2 linked regions of the Homo sapiens genome follow. The protein of the gene in region 2 interacts with the protein of the main gene of each other region in a pairwise test. Each region holds a gene or a part of one and is shown on either strand. Other genes may lie near its edges.

The links.
Region 1: the proteins of PFDN2 (region 2) and DBI interact in binary tests that used the Homo sapiens proteins (3 or more experiments, as listed by UniProt).

What each region holds. Positions count from the first base shown.
Region 1 is NC_000002.12:119,369,977-119,374,074, forward strand, and holds the end of DBI (acyl-CoA-binding protein), read left to right. Parts: intron 1-763; coding exon 764-826; intron 827-2,268; coding exon 2,269-2,342; 3' UTR 2,343-2,567; downstream 2,568-4,098.
Region 2 is NC_000001.11:161,110,550-161,116,111, forward strand, and holds part of PFDN2 (prefoldin subunit 2), read right to left. Parts: intron 64-5,562; exon of another isoform or gene 15-63; intron 1-14. UniProt on the Homo sapiens protein: Binds specifically to cytosolic chaperonin (c-CPN) and transfers target proteins to it. Binds to nascent polypeptide chain and promotes folding in an environment in which there are many competing pathways for nonnative proteins.

The DNA of each region.
Region 1 (4,098 bases), on a different chromosome or scaffold from region 2:
TTCTAGGATCCTGATGATGACCACAAGGGCAGTTTGTTTCAGCTGTCCCTGGGAACACTTCCCTGAAAGCGCTCAGGGACATTTTCTCAGGCACAGTGCTCCAGGCTACGGACTCTGATTGTTCCCTGTGGCTTTGGGGCTGGGCATCGTAGTGAAATAGGACAACAGGGAGATGGTGAGTGTGTTTCCCAACTGCAGATGACAACAGGTCTATAAGCATAAAGTCATCATATAACTTAAAGAAACCTTACCCTCGGTGAAATCTCCCACAGATCAGCAAGAAATAGACTAACAATTCGGTAGAAAAATGGGGCTAGGATATAAACAGTTCATAGGAAAGGACACCTGATATCATTAATGATTAGGGAGAGAAATTGGGTAGCTAACAGCAGGGGTGAGAGAGAAACTTTATAGTATTTTCCTCTGTAGCTTTTGAATTTTAAGACATATGAATGGATTTTTTTTTTAATTGTAATTAAAGTATAATTTTTTTAAAAGAGAAATTTTGGAGTCATTTAACTTGTAAGACAAAGGCTATCTTGTAATAAGAATACTGTTCTTCCTATTTGCTCTAGATTTTAAGTTTGGATTGGCATACATTGGTTTTCTTAGGGCAGAACCCACTCTACTAGACCTATTTAACCCCATGACAGAGCCTAGAAGGAACAGGTGTAATAGAAGATGGCATTTATGGCAAGAAGGTTGATCAAGTTCTCCATTAGAATTTGAACCAGATCTAATGCCTTTTCTTCCCTTGTTTAAGAACGGCCCGGGATGTTGGACTTCACGGGCAAGGCCAAGTGGGATGCCTGGAATGAGCTGAAAGGTAATTGTTCTAATCAATTTCTCTCATTTGTGAAACCCAGTAGTGAAAGAGTCTTCATTATGAAGTGTAAGGGAAGAGGAGAGAAAACAAAGTCAATGGGGCACGTGTGGGAAACCAGCCTGACCTGTGCCAGAATGGGAAAAAACCGGGCCACCTACTTTTTCTCCTAACACCATTTATGCCTTTTCTAAAAGCACCATCTCTGAGCAGGAGCATCATCTAGAGAGGAGGGGCTGGGAACCAGGCCACTGAAAAATAGTTTGGGAAATGATGTAGTTGGCGTAGGCTTTGGATGTGTTCAGAATAAGGGGTGGTTTCCTGTCTGCAACTCCCTCTCCCCTACAAGGCCAGGCGGTGACCCCCTAACCCCAGTGGCCCTCCCCAGTTCCTTCCTAGCCAGAAGGATACATAAAAGAAGGGAATGAGCTAATGCATGGCCTGCCGCTGGCATCGTAGGCTCAGTGAATGGAGCCATTATATGCTAAGCACCAGCAGCCAAGAAGTATCCAAGCTCGTACTTAATCACGTGCCACCTGCAGCAGCAAGACCCAAGAGTTGGCACCAAAGCTCCTGGCAGCATTAGTGTTCCTGCTGGCTAGTTTCTGAATAAGCCCTCTGTCCTTCTGCGAATGAGAAACCCTTGAATTCAGAAAGGGCCACAATACAATAAACACACTCCTAGGATCTGCAAGTAACTGGGAAGGGAATGCCCATCTGCCTGCCCATTTTCATGGGACATTTCCATACCATCCTCAGGCCCCATGTACTCTCCAGTGCTTCAGAACAAGCTCTGAGTTCCAAAGGGTCTCTATCCTTCACCATAGAATCCAGGAAACTGGGTGTCACTGTCTCTGAGGGATACATTCAGTGTCCTTTCTACTGCAGCAAGAAGACAAAGATTTGTCTCATTCCCCTCCAAGAAGCAGCCACTTTTGGTCAGAGTTCCTGAAACTTTTCTCATAGCCTCTCTCTGGGGAGAAGAGGGTGCCTGGCTTTGCTTTTTCACTGCCAGCTTAACAGCTCTGGAAGATAGGAGCCCAAAACAGAGACACTGAAAAGGCCAAAGCCAATATCAGCCACGAGAGTTAGCAGGACCAGTAAAGTCACCACGATGACAGTTTCCTACCTGTCTGGAGGGTGGCACCTCTCTCCCAAGGCTCACAATGGCCATTCCCCCAGGACAGGTGGGGGACGCAGGTGTCCAGCAGATGGGCGACAGATCTTGGCCAGCCCCACCAGGCTTTCTGAGCACAGTTGCTTATGGAGCATTCACTTCGGGCCAGGTTCTGTGGATACTGTCTCCTGTAATTAGTAGAATCTCAACTTTATTAAGTGAGAAACTGAGCCTAGGAGAGTTACAGCAGAGCTGCCTGGGGCTCTGGAGGCTGCTTGTTTCCTACCATGCTACCTCCCTGACACATAATCCTGTCGATTCCTTACAGGGACTTCCAAGGAAGATGCCATGAAAGCTTACATCAACAAAGTAGAAGAGCTAAAGAAAAAATACGGGATATGAGAGACTGGATTTGGTTACTGTGCCATGTGTTTATCCTAAACTGAGACAATGCCTTGTTTTTTTCTAATACCGTGGATGGTGGGAATTCGGGAAAATAACCAGTTAAACCAGCTACTCAAGGCTGCTCACCATACGGCTCTAACAGATTAGGGGCTAAAACGATTACTGACTTTCCTTGAGTAGTTTTTATCTGAAATCAATTAAAAGTGTATTTGTTACTTTAAATAACTTTAGTGATCTGAGTTCTTGAGATCATTTACTCTGTCTGACCTCAGCCTTGCTTCCTTTTTCTAAAGACCTCTGGTAGTGCTTCAGCTGCATACCTGGTAGAGTATAAGGTGGGCAGTCCTGCCCTGCACCCTGGCCTAAGGTGTGCTGGCCCTTTGTGGGGAGGAGGAGGATGGTAGAAGTGACCTTTCTCTCTTCCTTCCCAGTTCAGCCACGCCGAGGAAGATGAGGCAGGCTGGCTGAGACCACAGTCTGCAAGTACTTCTGACGGGGACGTTCCTGCCCCAGGACCTGTGTGAGGCAGGGTTTACAGTGCTTGAGGTTTGTCTGAGGCCCAGCTGGTCCCTGATTCCAGAGTGCATGAACCAGAGTGGAAGCCCCCATCAAGAATGGAGTGTGAACCTGACAGGAGGCGTTCCCCAAGTCCCAGGGGAAGCCACAGACAGCTGTGTGGGCAACAGTCAGTGGGCAAGGGGTGTGTCCTCTGCAAGGAGCAGAACCCTGGGAGCTTGCAGAGAAGAAAGGCTGGAGCTTGACTCTGGAGGACGTAGGAGGTAGATTGTTGAAAAGTAATAATGAAGAAAAGGAGATAGCTCTCTAGACCCTTCTTGCCAGATGTTCCCTTCCAGCTCTTGGGTTTACAATCCCGCTGCCCTTTGCAGTGGGGATCATACCTCAATATTGTGTAACGGGGATTACTGTGCCCATTATGTGAGTGAGGAAATTAAGGCTCAGAGGTGATTTAACTGGATCCAAGCCCAGGGCTCACTGGCCAGGAGGGCCCTGTTTGTCCCCCTCCACCATGTTCCCTCTCATGGCCCCTGGCTGCCACTTAGTCTGCACCTCTGCTGTGTTGCAGTGAGTGACATCTGTCTCTCTGGGCTAGCATAAGGTGCTGGTGTGAAATCTGTCCCTTGGGCTGTGCAGCTCACTCCGGAAGAGTGGCTTAGACAAGGAGGTCCCACTTCCAAAGCTGGAGTGAGGCACAGATGAGAGAGACTTTTAGGCACCTCAGGTGACTAGGTCATAGCCGGTTTGGGAGATGCCCTCCCCGCTCACTAGAAAGTACTTGTACTGGTTTCTCAGAAAGCAGTGTTTGTGCAGTTCTGAGAGCACCAGCAGCCTGGGGCTGCACCTGCTCCTGTGGCTCCCACAGGAGTCCTTGTACCACCCAGGGCTGGCTCACAGGGTGTCACTTGGGGACAAATTATCAGGGAAACCCACCCCCAATATTTCAACATAGGCTGTTTCTATTTTCCATAAGTTTCAGCCGGCTGAGAAATAAAGAGAAAGAGTACAAAGAGAGGAATTTTACAGCTGGGCCGCCAGGGGTGACGTGACATATCAGTAGGACCGTGATGCCCACCTGAGCCTCAAACCAGCAAGTTTTTATTAAGGGTTTCAAAAGGGGAGGGGGTGTAAAACAGGGAGTAGGTACAAAGATCACATGCTTCAAAAGGCAAAAAGCAGAACTACTAATAAGGGTCTAACAAAGATGACATGCTTCTGAGGGAACAGGACAAAGGGA
Region 2 (5,562 bases):
TCTATAATCATTACCTTTCTCTCCAAAATGTCCTAGGGTCTTCTTACATGACATTTACTCTTACTGGTTTCAATAGAAGAATAGAAGAGGTAGAGAGTTATGATTGGATGAACCTGGAAAAGCATGATCTGGGATACTGCTCCACTAATTACCTTCTTTTCAGTTCAGTGCCCCCTTTTCTGAAGAACATACTCAACTCTCTGTCAAAGAAAACTTCTTTGACCTTATTACTCCATCAAATAATAGTACTCATCCCTTCTCTTCATGAAATTTTTTTTTTTTTTTTGTAGAGACTTTTTTTTTTTTTTGAGATGGAGTCTCGCTCTGTCGCCCAGGCTGGAGTGCAGTGGCATGATATCGGCTCACTGCAACCTGCACCTCCCAGGTTCAAGCAATTCTCCTGCCTCAGCCTCCCGAGTAGGTGGGACTACAGGCGCCCGCCAATGCGCCCGGCTAACTTTTTGTATTTTTTAGTAGAGATGTGGTTTCACCATGTTAGCCAGGATGGTCTCAATCTCCTGACCTTGTGATCCGCCCGCCTCAGCCTCCCAAAGTGCTGGGATTACAGGTGTTAGCCACTGCGCCCAGCCCGAGATGGGGGTCTTACTATGTTGCCCAGGCTGGTTTCAAACTCGTGGCTTCAAGAGATCCTCCTGCCTCAGCCTCCCCAAGTACTGGGATCCAAGTAGCAACATAGTAAAGTGGAAAGAACCCAAACTTCTTATTCTGACCTGGGTTGAAATCCCAGTTTTGCCATTTACTTGCTATATGACTGAGTCACTTAACTTTCCTTGTTTCCTCATTTATAAAATGGACTTAATATAATATACCACAGGGCAGGGTTTCTCAACATTGTCACTACTGACATGTTAGGCCAAATCATTCTTTGCTAGGAGGGCTGTCTCAGGCATTATAGGATGTTTAACAAATCCCTGGACTATACCCACTAAAAGTCAGTAGCAACCCCTTTGATTTGTGACAACCAAAAATGTCTCCAGACACTGCCAGATGTCTCCTAGGAAAAGATAATGCCAGTTGAGAATCACTGCTACAGGGTAACAATGAGAACTAACTGAGATAATAGGTCAAGTGCCCGATACAATGTAGATCTTCGACTCCCCTTTGGTTTCCAGGTCCCTTCAGTTCTCCTTCCTATCTCAAGCCTCCTTCTTTCTCCTTTCTGAAAGTTCTTCCTCTTTCACTCCCACAATGGCCACAGGATCTAAGATTCTATTCATAGCACTTCTTCATTACCTACATTATTTTTGAAATTATTTTTTATTGATTCATAATCATATTTTCATGGTATTGTGATAATTTGATATATTCATATAATCAAATCAGGGTAACCTATACTATTTCAAGTGGCATTCTTAGCTACTTCTATAGTTCCAGCAATTGCCTTTATTCTACTTGCCTGCAAAACCAGGCCTTTTCAGAAATTCTAGTCCCACATTTACAAGTTAGAGGAAGGAGCTTTTTTGTGCCTGACAGAAATGGCTTAACGTCAGACCATGACAAGTTACTTCTTTTCTGAATGTTTCTTCACCAATAAAATACAGATTAATACCTGTCTCACAGAATGCATAAGTATTAATTACTTCTTTTCTGATGTTTCTTCACCAATAAAATACAGATAATACCTGCCTCACAGAATGTTGTAAGGATTAAGTAATTACATCAAGAACTTAGGACAATATCTATCATATAACAAGTTTTCAATAAATAGTAGCTGCTATTATTACAGATCATCTCCACCTAAATGTCCCATGGATATCTTAAACTCATGTTGTTCAAAGCTGAAGTGATCTTATCTCTTCTATTTCTGCTACTGACATCACTCTAGGCCTCCTGGTAGGAAACCTTAGTTTCATCTTTTGTTTTGTTTTTAAAGATGGGGTCTCCCTATGCTGCTCAGACTGGTGAAAAGTGGTTATTCACAGGCACAATTATAGCACACTATAGCTTCAAACTCCCAGACTCAAGTGATCCTCCTGTCTCAGCTTCCTGAGTAGCTGGGACTACAGGCACTTGCCACCATACCCAGGTTCATCTTTGAACATACCATAATCCCATGAACTGCCAAATGTATTGCACTTAGTTTAGCAATTTCTCTTAGGCTCACTGACATAACCCTAGTTCAGATGTTCATTACATTCTTATCTGAATTACTGCAATAGTCTTCTAAATGATCCTATTTTTAGACTCCCCAAACCTACCCTACACACTGCTAATTTAATCTTCCTAACACTTAGATGACATAGAAAAATGTTCAACATATACTATTAGGCTTAAAAAACAGATTACAAACCAGTACATACTGTAGTATAATCCTAATTTTATAAAATATGTAAAAAAAAAAAAAAGCTCCCCCTTCCATCCACACATATATACACAAAAAGACAAAGGAGGGGGGAAAAAATCTCTCAAAGGATATACTCCTAAATGGCAAGAAAAGTTATCTCTGGATAGTTGGATTATGGGCAATTTATTTCCTGGTTTGAACTTTTTCCTTTGTTTTCTGCAGTTCCGACAATAAATGTATTATTTTATATAAGAGTTAAACAATTAATAATATAACATATATCCTTCTGTGACTTCCTCACTGCTTATGTTAAAAAGTCATAAATTCTTTGGCATGCACTCAAAGACCTCTATGGCCTTATTCAACTACTCTCCTCTTATCATATTCCCTACTTTCTATTCCCACTGCTACCTGTTCAAATCCATCCACTCCTTCAGGGTTCTGCTCAAATACCTCTAACATAATCATGGCATAAGTGAAAAAAATACCTGATTCTTAAGTCCCTCATTTAAAAATCCTGCTCTTCCAGTTACTGACCTTGGGCAAGTTAACTAAAGCCTCTGAAATTAAAATGTCCTCACCTATAAATGGAGGACAACACAACCTACTTCAAATGGCAGTAATTGAATAACAGAAGGTAGGCCTGAGCGGTGGCTCAGCTCATGCCTGTAATCCTAGCACTTTGGGAAGCCAAGGCAGGTGGACTGCTTGAGCCCAAGAGTTCAAGACCAGCCTGGGCAACATGGCAAAACTCCATCTCTACAAGAAATACAAAAATTAGCTGGGCAGGGTGGCACACGCATGTAGTCCCAGTAACTTGGGAGGCTGAGGTAGAAGGATCACCTGAGCCTTGGGAGGTTGAGGCTGCAGTGAGCCGTGATCGCACCACTGCACTCCAGCCTGGGCAACAGAATGAGACCCTGTCTCAGTCAGTAACAGAAGGTAAAACAAGTGTCTAACACAATGTGTTATTTGCTTCCATCTTGTTTGTAAGGGACATATGTGGCTCAAATTTGCAGCAGTGATAAATCTTGTAATGTTTTACCCAGTGTTCTCTCCAGAATAAACAAAGGCAAGAGAATGTTAATCAAGGAACAGCCTCAAAACTCACTTATCACACTTCCTCAGTTTCCTGAGGGAAGTTTGAGGGGTTCTCTTTAGCTCCCCTAAAACAGTGGTTCCACTCTTGTTCTACTTCTTTTTTCACTTTCTGTACAAACTATGGAAAGTGATCATTTTTATCCATAACCACGGCTTTATCATCCATAAACTCAATTCTCAAATCTGTATCTCCAACTCAGATTTCTTACTGTATCTCAAGATTTAAAAATCAAAGTGTCTACTGAATGTTTAACCTGGGTGTCCCACAAGAAACCTAAACTCAAAATCCTAAAATAAACTTACATTTCCCCCAAAATTGTCTGTCTTCCTACATTCCTTATGGCACCATTATCCACCAAAGACAGAAACCTGAGAGACATCTTATATTCCTCTTTTACCCCCTTTTCTCCATATTCAAGTTCTGTAATCCACCTCAAACATTAAGTCCCACCTGCATCCCAAACATGCCAGGCAGTTTCACGCCTTAGTGTTTTGGAACACATTTATTCCCTCTACCTAGAAAATCTTCCACTTCCTTCTTTGCTTGACTAACTTCTCTCATCCTTTAGAATTGAGCTGAAGGATTTTTCTCCTCTAGAAAACAAAAGCTAACTAGCATTTACTAAACACACACTATATTCTAATCACTGTGCAAAACACTTCGCATGCATTGTCTTGCCTAATACTCTAAATTCAGTGATGAGGTAGGTATTGTTATGTTTCTACAGATGGGGGAGGCCAAGATGTAACTCATGGGAGGTCATATATAAATAGTAAATAGTAGAAATGAAATTCAAACTTAGGTCTGACCCTAGTGCATAAGAATGCTCTTAGCCACCCTACTATACCACAGCTTCCCTTATCCAGCCCCTACCCCCACAATCCTACAACCTCGTGATTAGTTAGGGGTCTCTCCTCTGCTGCCATAATGAAGGGATTGTGCAGCACACTATAAATCTTTATTGTTTGGTTTGTCTTTTCTCAAATGAGTCTGAGTAAAGCAATTTGAAGACAAAGTCTGTTTCATGTACAATAGTCTCTCATTATCCAGAGTTATCCAATGTCTGAAAATAAATGGAAAATTCCAGAAATAAACAATTCATACTTTTTGTGTGTTTGTTTTTTGAGACAAGAGTCTCGCTCTTTGCCCAGGCTGGAGTGCAATGGCGTAATCTTGGCTCACTGCAACCTCTGCCTCCCGGATTCAAGCGATTCTCCCTGCCTCAGCCTCTTGGGTAGCTAGGATTACAGGTGCCCGCCACCACACCTGGCTAATTTTTTTATTTTTAGTAGCGATGGGGTTTCGCCATGTTGGCCAAGCTGGTCTCGAACTCCTGACCTCAGATGATCCACCCACCTCGGTATCCCAAAGTGCTGGGATTACAGGCGTGAGCCACGGCACCTGGCCAACAATTCATAAGTTTTAAGTTTCACACTGTTGTGAATAGCGTGATGAAATCTCTAGCCATCCCGCTCAGGATGTGAATCATCCTTTTGCCCAGCCTATCCATGCTGTATATGCTACCTGCCCTTTAGTCATCAACATCTGCTCAACATTGTCGTGGCTCAATGATCTGAGATCACCTAAAGCAGATGATTCTCCTTCTGACTTATCATCAATAGTGGCCTAAGGCTATATCACAATGCTGTCATTCACCTTACCTCATCAGGAAGGCAGTTTATCATCTCACATCATCACAAGAAGGGTGAGTACAGTACAATCAGATATTTTGAAAAAGAGAGACCACATTCATGTAACCTTTATTACATTGTCATAACTGTTCTATTAGTTACTGCACCTATTATATAAATTAGACTTTATCATAGGTATGAGAAAAAACATAGAGTTCAATACTATCCCAGGTTTCAGGCATCTACTGGGGTCTTGGAATATGTCCCCCTCAGATAAGGGGGAGCTACAGTATCTGTATCGCTGTACCCAGCAGAGTGCTTGGCCCATGGTAGCCTTAAAAATTATTAGGGGGAGCCAGGCAAGGTGGCTCACACCTGCAATCCCAACACTTTGGGAGACCAAGGCAGGTGGATCACCTGAGGCCAGGAGTTCAAGACCAGCCAGAGCAAGAAAGTGAGACTCCCATCTCTACCAAAAAAACAATTTTTAATTAGCCATTCAAATGGCTTATGCCTATAGTCCC